Regions from separate parts of the Homo sapiens genome. Here regions 1, 2, 4 and 5 are each reported to be linked to region 3. Evidence: microRNA targets listed by miRTarBase, many of them from high-throughput screens and not tested one by one. Region 3 holds a microRNA gene; each other region holds the end of a gene's coding sequence.

Region 1 (4,000 bases), not on the chromosome of region 3:
AAAGGCAGGATCTACGGGTCCTGGGGCTGACTTCTCTCCCATGACCACTTCTAGGACCGAGAGGAGCGGAAGCTGCTGCTGGACCCTAGCAGCCCCCCTACCAAAGCTCTCAATGGAGCCGAGCCCAACTACCACAGCCTGCCTTCCGCTCGCACTGATGAGCAGGCCCTGCTCTCTTCCATCCTTGCCAAGACAGCCAGGTAAGTGTCAGAGGACCAGGCCTGGGTCAGAGCTCCTCTATCCATATTAAAGGCTAGGATAGAAGGAGCCAGGCTCAGGACATGGGGGATGGGACAAGGTCACTGGGGAGAGGTGCCTCCATGTCCAGCCCTGCTCCAGTAGGCAGGAGGGAAACTGGTGTCAGATAGCCCTGGAGTTGGTACCTGGCACTGAGTCCTGTTTGTCCTTCTCGGAAGCACCTGTCATGTCATCTCTGTCTCCTCTCCCCATAGCAACATCATTGATGTGTCTGCTGCAGACTCACAGGGCATGGAGCAGCATGAGTACATGGACCGTGCCAGGCAGTACAGGTGAGCACCTGGCCAGCGTGGGTCCCTCAGGCTACTTGGGCTCCCACCCTCCATCACTGTTCCAGCTTTGGAGCCTGGCCCCTAGTCCAAGCTTCTCATTTGGTGCAGCCCTGGAGACTGACCACAGATCACTTGGGTGCTTCAGTAGTTATTCATGTCAGCCCTGTTTACCCTGTGACACTCTTGAGGGCGCTGAGGCCAAGGGAGATGGGCCTAGATTGAGTCTGTGATGAGCTGAGACCTTCCCTCCCAGATACCCCTCCTCGACACCCTGCTTCTCTGGCCTGAGGGGATGAGGCTTACCTGGGCTGGGCAGGGCAGACTGTGGCTTAACTGCCTACCCCCACCCCCTCTCTCTTGGTCAGCACCCGCTTGGCTGTGCTGAGCAGCAGCCTGACCCATTGGAAGAAGCTGCCACCGCTGCCGTCTCTTACCAGCCAGCCCCACCAAGTGCTGGCCAGTGAGCCCATCCCGTTCTCTGATTTGCAGCAGGTGAGACACCCCTCACCTGCCCCTGCCCACCCTTCTCACACTGCCCAGGGTATGGCAGAGGGTTCACCCACTCTGCCTCAGAGGAGGTAGGGAAGGTGGAGTTAGGGAGCCTGGTAGCCTTGTAGGCCCCAGCTCCCTCCCACCTCGTTCTCTTAACTTTTTATGTCTTTCCTATCTCCTTCCTGCAACCTTTATTGTTTCACTCCCCTTTGTTCTTTTCCTTCTGTCTCTCCCATCCCTGTCTTTCTCTTTGCCTTCCTGTTCCCCTTCATTCCCTCCTTCTCCATCACCATCTAATCTCCCCTCCCCATTTTTCCTGATTGCCCTCCTCACCTGTCTCTGTTCCTCTCCTCCCCGGCCCCTCTCTGTCTCAGGTCTCCAGGATAGCTGCTTATGCCTACAGTGCACTTTCTCAGATCCGTGTGGACGCAAAAGAGGAGCTGGTTGTACAGTTTGGGATCCCATGAAGAGAGGGGTCCTTGGACAGCTCTTCTCCTCTCTTCATCCCATCTCTACCCCACCCCCTTGGCCCCCAGCCTCACTGCGGCTTATACAGTACCCTAACCTGCTACTAATCACAGAGAAAAATGTGAAGAAGGAGGAGAAGAGGAAGGCTAGAAGCCTGAGCAAGTGAGGGTAGAACCTTTTGGGACTGGCCTTTGAAGCTCTGGCCAGGGATGGGGTGGGGGCCAAAAGGACAGAGCCTGGTATGTCTTCATAGTCATTGAGAATGTGGAGATACCAGTTTGGGTGGGGGGTGATCACCAGGGGACCTAGGGAGATCCCCTTCCCACCCTCTCTGTTGGCCTCAGAGTCACTCCTGCCCCCTCTCCCTGACTTGGTGCTCACATGCACCTCACTAGGGTTTGTGACCAGGGTCTGGATGAGCTTGAATTTGAATGAATTGAGTTTGTATTTCTAGAACCCTGGGTTTTTACATGTTTGGTCTTTTTTTGTTTTGGTTTGTCACCCTCGATAAAGGAAGTATATTCATCCATGTGCTGGTTCTGGCCCCTCTGTTCTACCCATTCTACTTTTGATTACTTAGGTCTATGAGAGTAAGATGGGGGGAAGGGGACATCTTCCAGGGATATTGAAGATGAACCCAAGAGACAAGGGTTTAGGGTGTCAGCTCTTAGCTGAGACCTGGCTTGGGCTAACCTCAGACTGGATGAGACTGTTCTTGTCCCTTGTCCAGTGATGATGGGAACACTGTCAAAGCTGAACAGACCTGAATCTGAGGCAGCTTTGATTCTTGGGGGCCCTGCCTCAGACTCAATGGAATTACCAACAGCCCCTGGGGGTGAAGGGAGACATGGCGGGTTGGGGGGTGGAGAGAGAAAGCAGACCAGGCTCTTCTGGGAATACCTAATATGGAGTCAGCAAGCAAATGTTTTTAAGCAGAAGATTCTTTTTATCAAATGAAATCTTAAGCAGAATCCCAGCATATAAAACAGAATGGAATTACTTTGATCTGATTGAAGTGGGGGCTGGTTTCAGAGATCATAGGCCATCTTCTTGGCCTGTCATGGAGGCCTGTGAGGCATCTCTACAGACCCTGGTACTCTGTGAAGAGTTTGGAAATTACTGATCTACTTTAACCCCCAAATCTCTAAGCTGAAAAGTACAAAGGGGCCCAGAGAGTTAGATAAATTTCCCAAGGCTGTGTGGTAAACCCACGTCTCCAGTGTCCCAGGCCAGCAGGCCTTTCCCTCAATTGCCTCCCTTTTTCAGCAAAATAAGACTAGAGCTGGCCAGGTGCAGTGGCTTATCCTGTAATCCTAGCACTTTGGGAGGCTGAGGTGGGCAGATCACCTGAGGTCAGGAGTTTGAGACCAGCCTGGCCAACATGGCGAAACCCCATCTCTACTAAAAATACAAAAAAAGGCTGGGCGTGGTGGCTCACGCTTCTAATCCCAGCACTTTGGGAGGCCAAAGCAGACGGATCACCTGAGGTCAGGAGTTCAAGACCAGCCTGGCCAACATGGCGAAACCTTGTCTCTACTAAAATATAAAAAATTAGCTGGGGGAAGCCGAGGTGGGTGGATCACAAGGTCAGGAGATGGAGACCATCCTGGCTAACATGGTGAAACCCCGTCTCTACTAAAAATACAAAAAATTAGCCAGGCGTGGTAGTAGGTGCCTATAGTCCCAGCTACTTGGGAGGCTGAGGCAGGAGAATGGCGTGAACCTGGAAGGCGGAGTTTGCAGTGAGCCGAGATCGTGCCACTGCACTCCAGCCTGGGTGACAGAGCGAGACTCCGTCTCAAAAAAAAAAATTAGCTGGATGTGGTAGCAGGCGCCTGTAATCCCAGCTACTCAGGAGGCTGAGGCAGGAGAATCGCTTGAACCCAGCAGGCGGAGGTTGCAGTGAGCTGAGATCGCACCACTGCACTCCAGCTGGGGTGACGAGTGAAACCGTCTCAAAACAACAACAACAACAACAAAATTAGCCAGTCATGGTGGCAGGCGCCTTTAATCACAGCTACTGGGGAGGCTGAGGCAGGAGAATCTCTTGAACCTGGGAGGCTGAGGTTGCAGTGAGCCAAGATCGTGCCACTGCACTCCAGCCTGTGTGACAGAGTGAGACTCCGTCTCAAAAAAAAAAAAAAGAAAAGAAAAGGCTAGAGCTACTTGCAGTTGCCTGAGTTAGAGAACATCTCTACAAGGTGTAAGTGACTTCTCATCTGCTCAACAGCTCAAATTATTTATTGTCAAACCATGCTGTCTATGCTTAGGCCTTTAGGACTACTAGGGTCGTGGGAGCCTCAAAGTGTATTCTGCTTGGTCCAGGCCTTCTTGGGCTTGATGTTCATGCGTTTCCAGACTTCAGCTGTGGTGCGGTCTGCTTTGGTGACCCCACTGAAGTCGAACGTGGTGATACGGGACAGGGTGCACAGCACATATTGCCTGTGGGGAAGACTTAGGCTGGGGGCCAGCACCCCCACCAGAATCCCCTTCCCCCTCCACTAGTTGCT
Region 2 (4,191 bases), not on the chromosome of region 3:
TCCGCTTAGAAAAAGGAGCCCCGATGCATCCTGAACAGTGATGCACCCTAAACAGCCGCTCCCCGACCTTGGTTCCCGATTTGTGGCCTCTAACACTAGGGTTCATTGAGGAGCCCGGTCCAGGTTCTGAGGGCTTTTAAAGAGGAAGCCGGGGTCATGACCACCTACGCTAATTTTCCCAGGGGTAAAATCAAGGATTGTGTTGGGGACGAGGGTAAGGTTGGTTGCGTGAAATCGAGAGCTTTTCGACGGGGTCTGAGTCACGGACGATCCCCTCTCCACAAGGAACTCCTGAAACCACCCCCTCCGAGCTTCTCACGTAGGGGCCCGAATTCCTTTATAGATATTCCTTGGGGTTTTCCTCGGCCCCACCCAGAAACTCAACTCTGTCTGATTGGACTGCAACAAAGGGAGGTCCCGCCCATCGCTCCATGACGTCACAGAGGCTGCAGCCTTTTTGGACTAGAATTTTCCCAGCATCTAGGGAAGAGGAAGCCTCCTGACTACTCTGGCTTCCAGAGTCAAGGACCGGACTCAGGCCTTCAGTTTCCTCCCCTCCCCTTGCCCCAGGACCCAGGCTTTGGGCTAGATCCGGCCCCCCAGGCCGCTGCCGCCCCCACCGCGGTCCTTGGAAACGGCTGTCGAGCCACGAAGTGGACATTTTAGCCCTAAGACTACAACTCCCAAAATGCCCTGGGGCCTCTTTCTCTGTAGCTGACTGACGCTGCCAACCTCATAGCTTTCCGGGAAATGTAGTTCAGTGATAATCCGCTCCCTCCTCCGCCTCTTCTGCCCACGCGGAGGTCCCAGTGGGAGGAGAGGACTGGGGGCCAATACTGACAGTCCAGGAGTGAGCAACTGGGGGCTCAGACGTTAGGGTCCTGGAAGGTCTCTCTCTCCTGTGTGATAGAAACAGGGAACCAGAAAAACAGGGACCACAACTCACACAAGTCCAGCAACAAGGGGCTGTCAGATCTAAGTAGGGACAGTACTCCCAATCACGAGTAATAAAAATCCTCAGGGCCCGGCGCGGTGGCTCACGCTTGTAATTCCAGCGCTTTGGGAGGCCGAGGCGGGCAGATTGTCTGAGGTCAGGAGTTCGAGGCCAGCCTGGCTAACATGGTGAAACCCCGTCTCTACTAAAAATACAAAAATTAGCTGGGCATGGTGGCGAACGTCTGTAGTCCCAGCTACTTGGGAGGCTGAGGCACCAGAATCCGAGAGGTGGGAGTTTGCAGTGGGCCGAGATCACACTACTGCACTCCAGCCTGGGCCACAGAGCAAGACTCGATCTCTGAAAAAAAATAAATTAATTAAAAAAAAATAAAAGTCTTCAGAAGTACCCCACCTTTTCCTCCACTCTCTTACACACACACACACACACACACACACACAAACCCACACACACATACACAGTGGCTCTGGCTCCAAAAAAGCTACAGAGACACGGGTTAGTGCTGTAGACTTTTAATTCATACCTCCTGCTCTCTCACCCGTGGCAGCTGAGTTGGGAACAGTACTGTAACAATTGTAACTGTAACTCCCTGATAAGCCTACAGGCATGGGGTCTGGATGAGTAGACAGGGGATGTGATCAGAGCTGACTATGTTTAAGGTTTCTTCTTTCACCCTCCAAAAAACAGCAAGGGGCTCCTGAGATCTCGACAACCCCGTCCACCTTGGCCAGACCTCGTGCTCCTGCCTGGATCTGAGGCTGGGTCCAGGGTCTGCCTACCTTTAGATCGTTTTATCTCAGACCTGCCCAAAGCCAGATGTAGTGGTTCTGGGAGTTCAGGGACAGACAGTGGTTAGCAATGAGCACGGTACCTGCCAGTTTGTCACAAGCACAGAGGGTGTGTTTATACCTGCACACTTCCAGAAAACAGATCCCAGACCCTCAGCAGCCCACCTGCAGACAAAGACCAACTTCCTTCATTGTGAGAGGCAACCTGAACTCACACCCAATATATGGAGCTCTTGGCAGTTTATGAGCTTTAAAAAAAAGTGTCCCTGGATCCCTGGAAAGTTCTGCTCCAGAAGCTGTACCATTTTGGCAGTGATCCCTCACCCCACGTTCACATTTTAGCCTGTCTGCTCAAAACAAACAAAAAAAAGTCTTTGAGGGGCTGTGGGGCTTGTTGGACAGAGTCCCGCTCTGCTCACCAACTACCCCAGCTTTTCCAGAGACTGTGAACAGAGCAAGACGCTGGCCAACTAGAGATGGTTTGTTTTCCATCTCAATTTTTCCAGCAATGGTGGAACATTCATTAGATGCTACAATTAGGTTGCACATTCATTAGATTCTTCACTTGGCCCGGTGTGCTGGCTCACATCTATAAACCCAGCATTCTGGGAGGCCAAGGTGGGAGGACTGCTTGAGCCCAGGAGTTGAAGAACAGCCTGGGCAATATCACAAGACCTCGTCTCTACAAAAATTAAAAAAAATTATCCGGGCCAGGCATGGTGGCTCACGCCGGTAATCCCAGCACTGTGGGAGGCCGAGGTGGGCAGATCACGAGGTCAGGAGATCGAGACCATCCTGGTTAACACGATGAAACCCCGTCTCTACTAAAAATACAAAAAAAATTAGCCGGGCGTGGTGGCGGGCGCCTGTAGTCCCAGCTACTCAGGAGGCTGAGGCAGAATGGCATGAACCCGGGAGGCAGAGCTTGCAGTGAGCTGAGATCGCGCCACTGCACTCTGGCCTGGGCTACAGAGCAAGACTCCGTCTCAATAAATAAATAAATAAATAAATAATTAAAAAAAAAATATCCGGGCTGGGCACAGTGGCTCATGCCAGTAATCCCAGCACTTTGGGAGGCCAAGACAGGTGGATGACAAGGTCAGGAGATCGAGACCATCCTGGCCAACATGGTGAAACCCTGTCTCTACTAAAAATACAAAAATTAGCCAGGCATAATGGCCTGTGCCTGTAGTCCCATCTACTCAGGAGGCTGAGACAGGAGAATCGCTTGAACACAGGAGGCGGAAGTTGCAGTGAGCCAAGATCACGCCACTGCACTCCAGCCTGGGCAACAGAGCGAGACCCTGTCTCCAAAAAAAAAAAAAAAAAACTAAAAAGATTCTTCACCTTAGTTATCTGGATTTCCAGAACCCCATCCTGTCCATAAGGGCCCTGCAGGGTTCTTCACAGGCATCAAACCTGGTCCTCTCTAGAACAAGTCTCCCTCTAGAATCACTCCAGAAACACAGAAGGGGACTTGGTGAATGCTTGCTCTGGAGCAATCATATGCTCCTTCAGTCTTTGGAGGACCCAGGGGAGAAGTAACCCCTCTTCTAGAGTAGACCAGAGGGAGAGTTCCCCATTCCTGGGGGCAGCCATCTGGAAGTACTGTAGATATGGGCTGGGAAGAGCAGGTGGGCACTGTGGCTTCTAGAACTGCCTGCCAGCCATCAGGAAAAGATGTTTTGCTAGTTCTAGAATATTCAGACAGTTCCAGAAACGTCCCCCTTCTCTCCAACTCTCCCAACTAGAATCACTCTGGATACGGGCACCCATTTGCTTCAGGAACACCACAAGCTTCTCCAGAAGATGCCAGGCCTCTGAAGCCACGTACTGCTGGCTCTAGAAAGATCAGGCTACTTCAGAAAGTCTCCCTGGCTCTCAAGGCTTAGCCAATGTCCAGAGTGGAGACAAGTCTGCATTAATGCCCACCCACTCGGGCAGGAAGGCCGCCTCCGGCTTAAAGATCTTCAGGAACTCAGAGTCTGGCAGGGTGAAGTTGGCCAGGTAGACAGTGTCTCCGCCAGCCAGGTAGGCAGCCCAGAAGCCGAAGGTGCCAATGGTCATAATGGTGTGGTTGCACTGTGTGAGCAGGGCAAAGTCTTTCCACGGTGTAGCCTCCTGTCCATCGCCAGCAAACGTCACATCGCCCTGGGAGGTGTCGATGTTTTCTTTACACCACTCCATGCCGTTGCTGGTGACCACGAAAACGGGGGCTTCGTGCCGTGCCCGGAACCAGTCCATGGCCTGCCGGAGGTAGGCGCTGTCGCCCACCACACCCTTCCAGCGCTGAGGCATAACCTGCAGATAGTCCCCACGGCGCACGTGGACGCCGACAAAGGTGCGCGGGCGGTCCCCTGTGCGGCCCAGGCGGAGCTGACCCAGCACACTCTGCGCCTCTTCCCGAAGGTGGTCGTGCAGGGTGAACTCTCTGCGGATCTGTTCCCG
Region 3 (4,191 bases):
TCACTCCTATTGGAATAAGCAACTCTGTGTGTCATTTAGAAACTAATTGGCTCAAAGGCATGGGATCCACAGGAAGACAGAGTGAGTCCTATGGACATGGAGGGCAAATGGGCAGGATGGCCCTTTCACAAAAGGGAAATGGGCAGGAAAATAGGCAGGATGGTACCTTCACAAAAGGGAAATGGGTGCTGTTGGCTGGATGTCCACCATGTGCCAGCCACAGCAAACCCACTTAGATGCCTTAGCCTTCTTCTCACCACAAGGACTTGTGTGCCATCCAAGCCTAGAATTCTCTGCTTTCTTGATCATGAGCTGTCACCTAGCACGGCCTGGCTTTTCTCTCCTTCCCACGTGAGACCTTGTCCTTTGTCTACCCCTAGTGGTGGTGATCCTGAGGGGACCTGAAGGCTAGGCCCAGGGATGGTTCTGTGCTCTGTGTCTATTCATGCATGCATTCCAGAAACACATTTGAGTGTTCACCAAGTGCTCAGCACTTTGCTAGGCATTATGACTCAGATGAGACCCTTAGCCTCCCGGAGTTTACATCTTTGTCACGGGCATAAATCAGTGACTAAGGCAATGGGTGGTGAATTGAGGGTGGGTCTGCGGTGTGGTGGAATGGGCTCTTCTGCTGTGAGCCTTTGTATTCCTTCCCCTAGGAACGGGCACGCGCTCTTGGCATTCATGTTCTCGCGTCAGGAGGGCAAGTTGAACCGCCAGCAGACCATGGAGCTTGGCCACCACATCCTGAAGGCGCACATTTTCAAGGTGAGATGCACACCAACTTGGGGAAGGGTTTCTTTGTTGTCATTTTGAGGTTTTGCTTTGGAGATTTTAGACAGCTCTGTCAGCCATCCAAGAAACGCTCCATGCACCTCAGCCCAAATGCAACCTCCTCCTGCCTCCCCTCTCCAAAAGTAACCGCTGTTCTGACTCAGCCTGGGCATTTCCTTGCATTTTGCTATAGTTGATTGCTCAAGTGTATATCAGAGTGCTGTGCTTAAGTTTTACTTCTTTCCACCTTTAAATCTCTGATAAGTTTCTTTTTATCTAAAGGTTCCACTTTGTTCATTACTTTTTGTTTCCTTATTATTGATTTGTTCGAGAACCTGAGTTTCTTGACCTGTGTGATTTTGTACCACCTGGACTTTCTGACTGTGTTTGCCCAGGCTGGAGAGCAGTGGTGGGATCATAGCTTACTGGACTCAAGCCATCCTCCCGCCTCAGCCTCCCAAGTAACTGGGACTATAGGCACGCTCCACCTTGCAGGGCTCAGATGGTGATATTCTAATTCTGTCATTTATTCTTCCTCTAATTTACTTCCAACATGGTAAAACCTTGTCTCTACTAAAAATACAAAAATTAGCTGGGAGTGGTGGCATGTATCTGTAATCCCAGGTACTTGAGAGGCTGAGGGATGAGAATCACTTGAGCCTGGGAGGTGGAGGTTGAAGTGAGTTGAGATTGCACCACTGCACTTCCAGCCTGGGCGACACAGCAAGACTCTGACTCAAAGAGAAACTCTCATCTGCCATCTCTCTCCCAAGGCACAAAGTTAACCTAGTGAAGGCAGGCTGGTTCCTTGACCCTTGGTTTCAGGTAGTGAAAGCTCGCATGTCCAGGCATTCTTTGTGTGTGACCCCGTGCCTTCTGCAGGTATCTGCACCCTCTGCGGCAGACCCACTTTCAGAGTGACCCTGCAGGTGGGAAGGAGATGCTCAGGCAGATCTGTCTCTGATTGTTTCCAAGATCTGTCTCGATTGTTTCCAGGGCCTCAGTAAGAAGACGGGAATTTCTTCAAGCCATCTCCAAGCCCTGTGGATCGGCTACAGCACCGAGGGGCTGTCCGCCGCCCTGGCCTCTCTCAGGAATCTCTATACTCCCAACGTGAAGGTGAGCAACCTTCTGCACAGAGAGCCGGAGACCCAGCCCTGGCCGGCTGCTGGCCGTTCCTCCAACAGCCCTGTTTCCCTCTGCCCTGGGTGGTGGTGAGAGGACGCAGAGGAGCTTCTAAAGATGTGCTTCCCTGATCACACGGGCTTGGGTGCTGTATTACTCGTTCTTCCAGAAGTTTAGCTTTTCTTTGGCAGGAAGATGTGGGTGGTCAGGGCTGCTCTGAGCACATGTGGTGACTGTTTCACAGCAGATGTGATAAGGAAGCAATTTACAAAAGAAATCAAAGATCAGAGAGATTTCTAGGGAAAACGGATTTTTTAAGTGTCCTGCGTTACTAATCTGGACCATCTCTTCAGAGTTCATGGGAAATTAAGCATGGATGGGTGATGCATAGAGATAAGTACACAGAAAAACAAACATCGAGGTTTCATGTATCCATATTTCTGCCTATGGAAAGGGTATCAGCATGGCCTTCTGTGGAGCCAAGAGCTTCTTCACTTCTTGGTCAGTGGCTTTCATGTCATGATGTTCCACTCAGCTTTTTAAGGTAGATTTTTCTTCCTGATTTCATGTAGCCTGGGAATCTGAAGCACACAGAGGCCAAGCAGCCTGTTAAGGCCACAGAGACAGTGTCCAGGCCTTTCAGCTTCAGGCCCTGATGTACCCGGCTGCCTGTGGAAGCCCTGGGTCAGTTTAGGGAGCCAGGTCTTCCCCCCGAATCACTCACATTGTTTCATCTTTCATTTCAGCTAAGAGTGTATCTCTCGGCTTCTCCATAACTAATAAAATTCTATAATCATAAGAAAGATGAGAATAAAAATGGCAATATGTTTTCATATGTTAATGAATTTCTGGGCATAGAATTTATTTTAATATGGAAATAAGTAAATGGGAAACATCTGTTGAGTACAAGTTTTTAAGACAGTAAATTTAAAGGTACTGCATAATAGTGTAATGAGCATGGCCCTCCTGAGATTATAAACTTTGCTCTTTAACGTATGTGCGATTTTAAGAGTTAATCATTTTTACTTTGTTTTGTAAAACTCCAGTGTCACCTACATCTACACCATCTCCGAAATTATTTCTATAATGTGGTTATAGAATCTTAAGTCTTTTCATTATCCTTCTGTTTCTTTTATCTTTCAAGGGGGGAAAACGGTTTTCACAGGATCTTGAACAAATTACAGTAATTTTAAATTATGCATGCAATTAAGGAACTTTTTTTAGAGTGTATTAAATGTTGTCATACAGGAATGAATGTCATTTTGAACAATAATTGCAGTTTGCCACTTTGGTAAATTAAAGTGACTTGCTCTGGGATGATTACTTGGTAGATGGATTTTAGTTGCAGTGGCATGCCAGCAGTCTCTAACCATGTTGTCTCCTGTGGCCAGGCCAGGATGGGGCCAGCCTGGGCCCCGCTGGCCCACTGGAGTCCCATCCAGCCAGTGGTTTTGTTGTACCATCTCATAGGACTGGTGGCCAGCCGCAAGCTGTGGCCTCAGGAGGATTTAGGTTGCAGTTCTTTTCTCAGCTGACAACAGAAAGGAGAGGAGAACAGGAGCTAGGTGTGGCCTTTGGCCCAACTTCCCTTGGCCGGGAGATCCAGTCATATCCTACATCATAGTCAGGAAGGACACATTTTAAAACAATTGTGCTTGTGTGAGCTTCCAGTGTACTTAGTGGGAATGCTGATGCTGCCCTATGGCCACCCTGGCCAAGCCTCTTCTGGTCCTCATGATCGTATTGCCTCGCATATCCCCAGCTCCCTTCCTGTTTTCCTGTTTTCATTAAATCCAGAAGTTGAGAGATACCACCACTTCTGAGTGTTGTCCAAGGAGGGCTTCTGTGATCATGGTCGGAAAATTTCCATATCGTTGGGGGAAAATCTATAGGATGAATCATTTAAACAGGTTCCTTCAGCACAGTGCCGTCTCAGCCAAGACTGCTGCTCTGCCACCTGGCTGCTCTGTGACCATCATTAGCTTTGTGCTTAGCGCTCAGCTCGGCCTTACTCCCTCTGAGCCTTGGCTTTCTCACCTATAAAGTGGAGACACAAAAGAGGCTGTCTCTCAAGTGATGAGAAACCTTACTGAGATGTTAAAGGTACTGGGAACATACTTGGCATTTATTATGTTTACATGAATTGTTGTTAGTGCTTTGCCTCATCTCTGGAAACAGTGGCTCTGCTGTAGGCACCTGGGAAGTTTTGGATGTGCCAGTTGGTGCTTGTTAACAGGAGCTGCCGACCTTGAGGATGTGATGGTTGCAGGTGACTTACCTCTGCCCTCATCT
Region 4 (4,191 bases), not on the chromosome of region 3:
TTAAGGCCATCTGCAGGGAGGAATGGGACGGGGTGGCGAGGAGGGGTGGCACATGCACCTGATTGGCCTCATTGGAAAGCTCCCCAGCTTCTCAGTGGGGAATGGGCAGTGTGGACTAGAGTAGGAGTTGCATTGTTGCTATTTTGTTTTCAGTCCATTTGGCCTAAGACCCCTCCAACAAAGCTACTGTGTCAGGGTGATCTCTGACTAGTGGATACTGGTCCCTTTAATCATGTGCTTTGATTTTAGGCCGACGTGGAAAGGAAATTATCACAGATGATTCTTGACAAGAAATTTCATGGTAAGTAACAGTCACACAGGCAAGGGGGCTGGTGGTGGTGATGAGATGGTTGAAGAAGTTTATTTTCAAAGAAGATGTTCTATTTGTTTCCCCCGATGGTTCACCCTGGGGTCCTGGCCCCTCTTCCCTGTGATGAGAATGTGTAATAAGCATGTGTACATGGAATAGGGAGATGAATTCTATTTCCCTTCTTTTCTGGACACAGTGAGTCAACTAGGGAGTGGGCTGCTTCACAAACACTTTTGTGTCTAACCTCATCTTTTACCTGGGTTGCCCTTGTGTTTCTTGCAGGGATTTTGGACCAGGGGGAGGGTGTCCTGATTATTTTCGATGAACCCCCAGTAGATAAAACTTACGAAGCTGCTCTGGAAACAATTCAGAACATGAGCAAAGTAGTGGATTCCCTCTACAACAAAGCCAAGAAACTGACATAGGTGAGTGCTGGCTTCAGGACCCCAGGGCTGGGCAGCTCTGTCTTCTGCGTGTCGAGACTGAAAACCTCCTCCTGGTGTCCTCATGGCTTCCTGATTGACACTGCTCTGTCTTCTCTTGCAGAGTTGGATCTGTAGCGGTCCTTTGGAGAGTGTGTGTGGCGGGAGAGTGAAACCTTGGGGGAAAATGCTAGGAGATTCTTTTTTCTTTTTGTTCTACTTTTCGCTCGGAAAGTTTTTAAATCCTCATTTGGTGCATCTGTATTCCAGCCAATAGGTGTGCCAGTTTTCATGTAATCTTTACTGGCCCAACTTGGGAGTGGGGAAATTGCTTAAAAAAAAAGAAAAAGAAAAAAAAAAAGATTATTCTAAATAAAAGGAAAAAGGCTTACACTACCTAAAGCTGTGCTCTCTGCCTCCTGGGAGAGGGCCGCAAAGCCAGGCACCCCGCCAACCACTGGGGGTCCTAATCCACCTGCTGGGCATCACCTCTCCTCCTCCTCAGAATTGGGTGTTTGCTGACCATCAAAAGCAATGACTTTTTATTCTGTTTGTACTGAACCAAAACAAACAACTGTGTATAGACTGCTGTTTTCTTTTTTATTTGAAATGAGGCATTTTGGTGTTCTTTCCCCTACCATACGGCCTGTCTGCCCTTCCCTCCCCACATTGGCTCCAGCAGAGTAGCCGAAGGTCCTGCCGCCGCCGCCACCACCACCACCACTGCAGCAACAACAGCAGCAGCAGCAGCAGCGCCTGCATAGCTCCACTCTGACCTGTGAAGGAATGGGGATGAGGCCAGGAGCTAGTGTCTACCACGGCCACACAGGGAGCAGTGTGGGCCCTTAGCCCCCAAGGGGCCTGCTATGCATGTGGCTTTTTTTTTTTTTTTAAACACAGTAAACTAGATTAGTCGTCAGTGTTTTAATTGCCCCTCTTCTCCTCTCCTGCATTCCTCTCCTCTCTTCTTTCCTCTCTGTCCCTTCTCTTTCCCCTCTCAACCAGGAGACCATCATGTCTCTCTGCCTTCCTCCTCTCCCCTCCAGGGGAGTCAGGCTGTCTGTGAAAGCCATGAGCTTCTCTCCCTCTCCCACTCCTCCTCTCCTACTTTCAGATGGATTTATTCCTTTTTTAAACAATGAACATCGGAAATGAGACTGTGGGGTGTGGTTTCTCTCTCTCTTTTTTTTTTAATTTTCTTTGTTGGGTTTTTGAGCAACCTCATGTCCCCTTCCCAGGGAGCTTTTTAATTTACCTCTTAGAACTCAAGTGGATGGGAAGTAGAGCACTATGTGTCAGTATGCTTTGTTTTCTGACACGATTACACAGCGAGGCTTTAATGCCATTTGGGTAGGTGAGCTTCTGCACTTCTGTTGTGCTGAACTGTATTTTCTTCTCTCATCTCCTCTTTGTCTTTTTCTCTTTTCCTCTCCTTCCTGCCTTCTTCTGCTGGCCTCCTTTTCTCTTTCTTTACCTTCCTTGGATTATCCTTCCAGGTTTTCATAATAAATTTATATTTTGTAAAAGGATTTTGTTGTACCAGGTTTTGCATCCTCACTGAATCTGACTGGCTTTTATTTTCCTCTCCAAAATCAGGTTTTTGTTCTCAACATCTTTCCCCATCATGTCTAGTCACTGTTTTGGTTTTGGCACCATCAGTATCAAATGTACAAACGGTTCTTGCTAACCAACACCAGGTATATCTGATGTTCAGATGAGTTCCAATAAAAATAATTTTTTTTTTTTTCAAAAGGTGTCTTTTTCTTGAGTGCTGGAGGGCTTCCAAGCAAGTCCAGACAGCTCTGTGTGGCCCCACACTAGTCTAGCTCTCATCTGGCCAAAGCTGTTATCTCATTTGTGTAATGGGAGTCCTTAAGGTAAATTTGGGGTCCAAACTTGGAGGGCTTTGGGGGCAAGAAAGTTGGTGTGTGAGTTCTGAGGTTGGAAATGAGTTCAGGTGTCTTCTTCCAGGGCAGCATGGTCCAGTGAGCACATGTAAGTTTGGGCAGTAGATCCTCTGAGCCTACTTTCTCTTCTACTCAGTGAGGATGCTGCTTCCTTGGCAGGTGATTGTGATGTGAAGCTTAGTAAGTCATAGACGTGCAGGTGTCTGGAGAGTCCTGACATGCAGTTGTGGTTTCGTTTCCTTTTGGAATCTTCAAAGGCAGCGATTTTCATATTGCCTCACACCCTGGCGGGGGCGGGGGGCTCTGGGACCACTGGGGGACCTGCTAAATCCTCTTCAGTCTGAGCAGTTCAGCCATTGTCAGTTTTAGTATTGTGTCTCTGTATTTCACTTGCAGAAAGAGCTTTGCTTCTATAAAGGACTTTAAAAAGTACTCCAAAGAGATCTAGTTTTGGAGTAGAGGGGAGATGTTTTCTCAAACTTAGGGCAGTCCTGAGATGCTCAGGCAGTAGCCCTTTTCTCAGTTCCCTTTGCGGGTCTTGGTCAGATGATGCCCTCTAGACCCGTGCTGTCCAATATGTAGCCGCTAGCCATGTGCAGCTGTCAGGCCCTTGCAACGTGGCTGGTTCGAGCTGTGATACACTGCAAGTGTAAACACAAACCAGACTTCGAAGGCTTAGTATGATAACAAAAGAAAAGGAGTGTAAAATATGTCAATAACTTTTTTATATATGTGTTGAAATATTTTGGGTATTGGGTTAAATAAAATATATTATTAAAATTCACCTGTTTCCCTTTTACTTGTGTAATGTGGCTGCTAGAAAATATAAAGTTACCTATGTGGCTTCTATCTGGACAGCGCAGCTCTAGACCTCCAGGACCAGCAGTTGTGTCACTGCCTCCTCTCCCAGGCCTCTCATGACCTGAGTCCAGGCACAGCTGGGAAGGTCAGCTGGCCGGTGGGCTGGCCTGGGCCCGGCTCCCTCACCTCCCTTCTGGGCTCCAGCCTTCATGGTGCCAGGACTTTCTTGTGTGTTAATGAGACTCTACTGGAGTTGGGAGCAGAGGCTCTGGTCCCCTGCTGTGTGCTAGTTATGTAATCTGTGCTGCTCAGAAGGGCCACTAGATGCTGCTCTGTGATCCCTGAAAGAACAAAGCCGACTTCCTCAGGAGTAAGGGCTCAGGCCTGCTCTATTTGGAACCCTTCTTGGAAGCTGTAGCTGGCCCCCGCCTTGACCTCCCTCCCTCGGGATGCTATGGGAAGTGGGGCATGCAGGAAGAGTGGACTCTCCGGCAGTCCACGGGCAGCCCAGCCCAGCAGGGAAGCTAACAAGCAGGCTGGCCCTTCAGGCAGCTAGAGATAGGCAATAGGCTAAGTAGGCTGATTGATGGGGGTGGGATTTGGAAATCTTCCCTGCAGTTCTATGATGAAGGCAGCTAGGAAGAAAACAGCTCTGCCTCATTCAACTGGGTCTGCCTTCTGGGTCCTTGGTTCTGCCATTTCTGGCAGTTGACTGTCCTTTCTTCCTTGCTTCCAGTTGGAGCAGTGATAG
Region 5 (4,000 bases), not on the chromosome of region 3:
ACCCCAGAGACCAGCCCCAGCCCCCACAACCGGACCATCACCCTGGGGAGCAGGTGAAGCTGTTGAGGGTGATGGCACGGGGCAGGGATGGACCTGCTCAGCCCAGTGTCAGAACTGCTTAGCGGTGTTCTGTCCTGGCAGCTCTGGAGCCATGGAGGCCATGGGGCCTGAAGCTCAGTTTGCCCCGCTCTGAGTATGAGAACAGGCTATGCCAGTTAAAGTTCCAAATACAGGGAGAAGCTGATGGAGACTATGGAGGCAGAGGGGTCCGGCTGATTGCCCTCCCCTCACAAACCACCCCCTGGTTCAGCTACTTGCTCTGCCGTGGGGCCACCCCTCTTAGGTTTGGCGCACAAGATCACTGAGTGGTCATGGACAGTACTAGCCACAGATGGCTAAACTTGGCCTCACCACCTTCTCTCCCACAAGCAGGGGGTGCTTGCCTTGGTTTAGACAACCCAGGGGGCGGGGTGGCCTCTTAAGATGTCTCCCAGGCAAAAGTGGCCTGATCTGCTGCTCCAAAGATGAAAGAAGACTGGAGAGAGGCAGGTGTTCCCTGGACACTGTGGCTGCAGTCTACCCACTCTTCCGTCGTACACACAGGCTTGGGGAGGAAAGGGCCTCTTTCCCGGGGCCCACAGCACAGCCAGGCCTAAAACTGTCTCCTGGCTCAGCCCAGCCGTTGGAAAGCAGAGCCTGGGAGCCTGTGGTAGACCATGAGGAGAGGGAAGGGCCCAGAGCCAGGGCTTTTGCCATTTGCTGCCCGGCAGGGATCAGGGCCACCTGGGCAAAGACAGGGAGGTGAGGAAGGCAGGGCAGGTGTGGGACGAAGCTTGAATGGATAGGCATGAGTCTCCACAGCCCAGCCTCAGGCTGGCCAGGGGTGGCGGCGGCTGCAGGCTGTGAAATGTGTGAGTGTGTGTCCGTGTGTGGGTAGATGTGGTGTGAGTGTGTGTGTGGTGCGGGTGATGGAATGCATGAGCCTGCGGAATGTATGTGAGTACGTGACTGTATGGAAAGTCTGTGTGAGTGTATGTGTGTGTGCATACAGGTGTGAAGTGTGTGTGTGTGTGAGTGTGTGAGTGTGTGTGTGTGTGTGTGTGTGTGTGTGTGCTGGGGGGCTGGCTAAATCCTTCCCCTGTCCCGCCCCAACCCAGCTTAGCCTCTAGGGTTTCAGCCACTGTCCTAAAGAAAACAGCCTGGAGCCTGCAGCAGGAAATCGCTGTTTGGATTGCAGAGGCGCCTCTTCCTGCCACAGCCCTGCGGAGCAGGGAGGGCCAGGAGCAGGCCTTCCTGCCCACCTGGACCAGATATCGAGCTGGTCAGGAGCCCCTTCACCCCCTGATCTGGCCTCCCTAACGCCCTTCAGACCCCAGCCTTGAGGACTGAATGGGAAACCCTCCCACCGTTGTCTCTCGAGGGCAGTGGGAGAAGTGGATGCCCCCGAGGCTGAGTGAGCCGAGGCTGGAACACCCTCACAGAGGAAAGCCAGGCAGTCCTGTCAATGGTAGGTCCAGCAATCCCACATTCACGAACATTCTGCCGATACAGCTCATTCATGCAAAAGGGTGTGCCTCGCTCAGCCTGGTTTGTACCAAAGCGCTTGAGAGCGGATTAAGCAGAGCTGGGGGTCCCTGGACTGTGGCGCATCCATCCAGGGCAACTCAGCCAGCTCTCCATGTGCTGGGAAGGAAGCTCCCCAAGACATGGCCAGGTGGGAAAAACAGGGTACAGTGCAGTGTGTACAGGATCCTCACATCTTCGTAAAAAAAGAAAACACATACATGTAAATGCTTGTGTGTGCACAGATCAGACTTTCAAACCTTCCGTACCTTGGGCAGGCAATAACTAAGAAAATATATAAAAATACGCACAAATAGATACATGAGTGCTGGGGGTGCCTCGGGGACCCTCTACCGGCTTGATTGTGAGACCCCAGGCAGGTCCCTTCCTCTCTGTGTCCTGAATTTCTTGTGTGCTCTCAGAGGTCAGAAAACCTTGAAGCTGGTGAAGTGAGGCGTGTGTGCGTGGAGATGGAGTGGGGAGGGGGTGGGGGGCTAGTTTGCGTTGCCTGTTAGAACCTCCTCCTCCTGCTGCAATGAAACCCACTCCCAAGGCCATAGGCTGCTCCCTCCTGTGACATTCCTTAAGAGAGTTTGGATTTCATCTGGCCCTTTTCCCCAGTCCCCACTCCTTCCTTCCAGAATCCCTCGGAACCACTCCAAGCCTTCATTCCTGGAAGCAGTGCCCACTAATACCCCTGCAGCCCCCGTCTCAAGGCCTTCATCAGCTGAGTGTTCTCCAAGTTGCCCCAACTGTCCCAGAGCCTCTCATGCCCCCTGGACCTCTCCTGGCCTCCTCCAGGTCCAGGATATGTGTGGGGGGTGCTGGTCCAGCTGCCCCCAGTGCGGCCCTGCGATCCTCACAGCCGCCATTGCTTCTCAGGCCCTTCCCTCTGCACTCCAAGGCCGCCCCACAGATGGCCGTAGGGGCCCATGCAGTCCTGACAAGGCTTCCTTCTTTCTCAGACGCCTGGCAATAGGGGGATGCCTGAGGCTGGGTGTGTGACCCCCACTGGGCCTCCAGTGAAGCCCAGGGGCAAGTCTGGGCTGCCCCAGGCCTGGAGTAGCCCCCTCCCAGGCACCCCTCTGGCACTGTCATGGGCATCACCTATGCCTTGGAGCGACTTCATGGGATAGAGCTGGAGAAGCTGAAGTCAGCAGGAGATTAATTAATCAAAACCCGAACACATCTGCTGTTAATTAATTCCATGCCAAGGTTAACTCTTCCCTCTGGGCTTCCCCTCCCCTTGGTGGGAAGAAGGAAATAATGGTGGGAGACAGCACCCCCTTAACCTTCTTCCCTTAGTGGGAAACATGAAGAAGGGAGGGGAACGTGAAGGGCAGGGCAGTTTCTGGGGTAAGAAAGCAGAAGAGGCAGGGCCCCCAGAGGGCAGGGCAGCCTCACCCATGTGGGTGCTTTTTAGCGGTGGTAGGGGGCGTTTGCTTTTGAGAGTCAGGGTCCATGGCAATTAGTCATGAGTCCTGAGGAAATCTGAGATGGACAAATATCTTTATTTACAGCAACAGATAGAACAGACCCTCCCTCCCTTCCCTTCCTTTCCCCTTCCAGTCTTTTCCATACTGTTCCCCCTCCCGCCCCACCCCAGGCTCTCGCCTAGCCCTGCCCTCTGGGGTCACTGCGTGGGTTAGGCCCCCAAAAAAGCCTAGGAAAGGAGACTGGAGAGGGCTGGCTGAGGGTGGGTGGGGCGTCTCTTCACATTTTTCTGTCCTCTAAGCCTGGGGTGGAGGAGAGAGGCAGGCACCAGGAGCAGGGAGAGGTAGAGAGCTACGGCCCCACCGGCCCACCCTCCCCAAGTAACTTTCACAGTGTTCCCCAGCCCTGGCTGCCCCCTGCGGTCCCCACCCCAGCCCTGCCCCTAGGTTGTCCTGTCAGGTCCTCAGCAATGTATGAACCTGGTAACCCAGTAAAGAGTTCAGGCTTCTCTGCCATGGGCCCACCACCCACGGCTGAGGAGGTGGCCCCTCTGAGTGCCCCCCACTATTTTCAAGGCTGGGGTTCTGAGAGGACATGGGTGGGTAGGAGAGGACCAGGGAGAGGGGGCTTCTCAAGCCTTGTGTGACAGTCCTGGGCCTGGCCCCACTCAGAGGGACCCTGCTGGAATCTGCAGGGGCGCCAGGCTGGCTTAGCCCCCGACAGAGGCTCAGGAGGAGAAGCAGAGCCCACAGCACTCCATGCAGATCTCCAGGCAGTCCGCGGACTCGCAGCAGGCATCCAGGATGCCGCAGTCCAGGTCGCAGGGCAGGTCGCAGTCGGCACACTCGCCAGAGCCACAGCAGCAGCAGCAGAGGCACGAGTCCTCCGAGCTGCAGGAGCCACAGGTGGCGCAGTCCAGGACGATGTTGCACAGCGTCAGGAACTCGCAGAACAGGCAGGACAGGATGCAGTGGACACAGCAGTCTGCGGGGTGGCGGTGGAG

The links. Region 3 holds the annotated microRNA hsa-miR-6888-5p (AAGGAGAUGCUCAGGCAGAU, at 1,709-1,728, shown strand). A microRNA usually pairs through its seed, bases 2 to 8, with sites in the 3' UTR of a target mRNA and lowers its output. Matches are read on the target gene's strand: a 7mer-m8 pairs with bases 2 to 8, a 7mer-A1 pairs with bases 2 to 7 and ends in A, and an 8mer does both.
Region 1: miRTarBase lists LRRC51 as a target of hsa-miR-6888-5p. Seed matches in the 3' UTR shown: 7mer-m8 at 3,080-3,086.
Region 2: miRTarBase lists FUT1 as a target of hsa-miR-6888-5p. Seed matches in the 3' UTR shown: 7mer-m8 at 2,845-2,851 and 7mer-m8 at 2,522-2,528.
Region 4: the mRNA of PSMD11 is a reported target of hsa-miR-6888-5p. Seed matches in the 3' UTR shown: 7mer-A1 at 1,833-1,839 and 7mer-m8 at 2,133-2,139.
Region 5: the mRNA of MDFI is a reported target of hsa-miR-6888-5p. Seed matches in the 3' UTR shown: 7mer-A1 at 3,601-3,607.

What each region holds. Positions count from the first base shown.
Region 1 is chr11:72,095,311-72,099,310 of GRCh38, reverse strand. LRRC51 (leucine rich repeat containing 51) reads right to left here. Exons shown (of 6, transcript NM_145309.6): 6 at 2,416-3,932. The coding sequence ends at 3,791. The region is part of intron 5 of LRTOMT (leucine rich transmembrane and O-methyltransferase domain containing); the gene reads right to left. It overlaps LAMTOR1 (late endosomal/lysosomal adaptor, MAPK and MTOR activator 1), which reads left to right. Exons shown (of 5, transcript NM_017907.3): 2 at 55-200; 3 at 453-530; 4 at 896-1,022; 5 at 1,397-2,019. The coding sequence ends at 1,489. Among named protein-coding and RNA genes, the nearest start is that of LAMTOR1, 6.0 kb to the left of the region's middle.
Region 2 is chr19:48,746,560-48,750,750 of GRCh38, forward strand. It overlaps FUT1 (fucosyltransferase 1 (H blood group)), which reads right to left. Exons shown (of 2, transcript NM_001384359.1): 2 at 1,452-4,191. The coding sequence ends at 3,625. It overlaps IZUMO1 (izumo sperm-oocyte fusion 1), which reads right to left and starts at 350. Exons shown (of 10, transcript NM_182575.3): 1 at 1-350. RefSeq lists enhancers at 1-630, 631-1,416.
Region 3 is chr2:159,185,132-159,189,322 of GRCh38, forward strand. It overlaps MIR6888 (microRNA 6888), which reads left to right and starts at 1,704; the gene lies at 1,704-1,770. It overlaps TANC1 (tetratricopeptide repeat, ankyrin repeat and coiled-coil containing 1), which reads left to right. Exons shown (of 27, transcript NM_033394.3): 15 at 660-768; 16 at 1,771-1,893. RefSeq lists an enhancer at 471-640 and a cis regulatory region at 556.
Region 4 is chr17:32,479,897-32,484,087 of GRCh38, forward strand. It overlaps PSMD11 (proteasome 26S subunit, non-ATPase 11), which reads left to right. Exons shown (of 14, transcript NM_002815.4): 12 at 250-301; 13 at 593-735; 14 at 857-3,423. The coding sequence ends at 735. Among named protein-coding and RNA genes, the nearest start is that of CDK5R1, 5.0 kb to the right of the region's middle.
Region 5 is chr6:41,653,300-41,657,299 of GRCh38, reverse strand. MDFI (MyoD family inhibitor) reads right to left here. Exons shown (of 5, transcript NM_005586.4): 5 at 3,056-3,981. The coding sequence ends at 3,725. Among named protein-coding and RNA genes, the nearest start is that of MDFI, 17 kb to the right of the region's middle.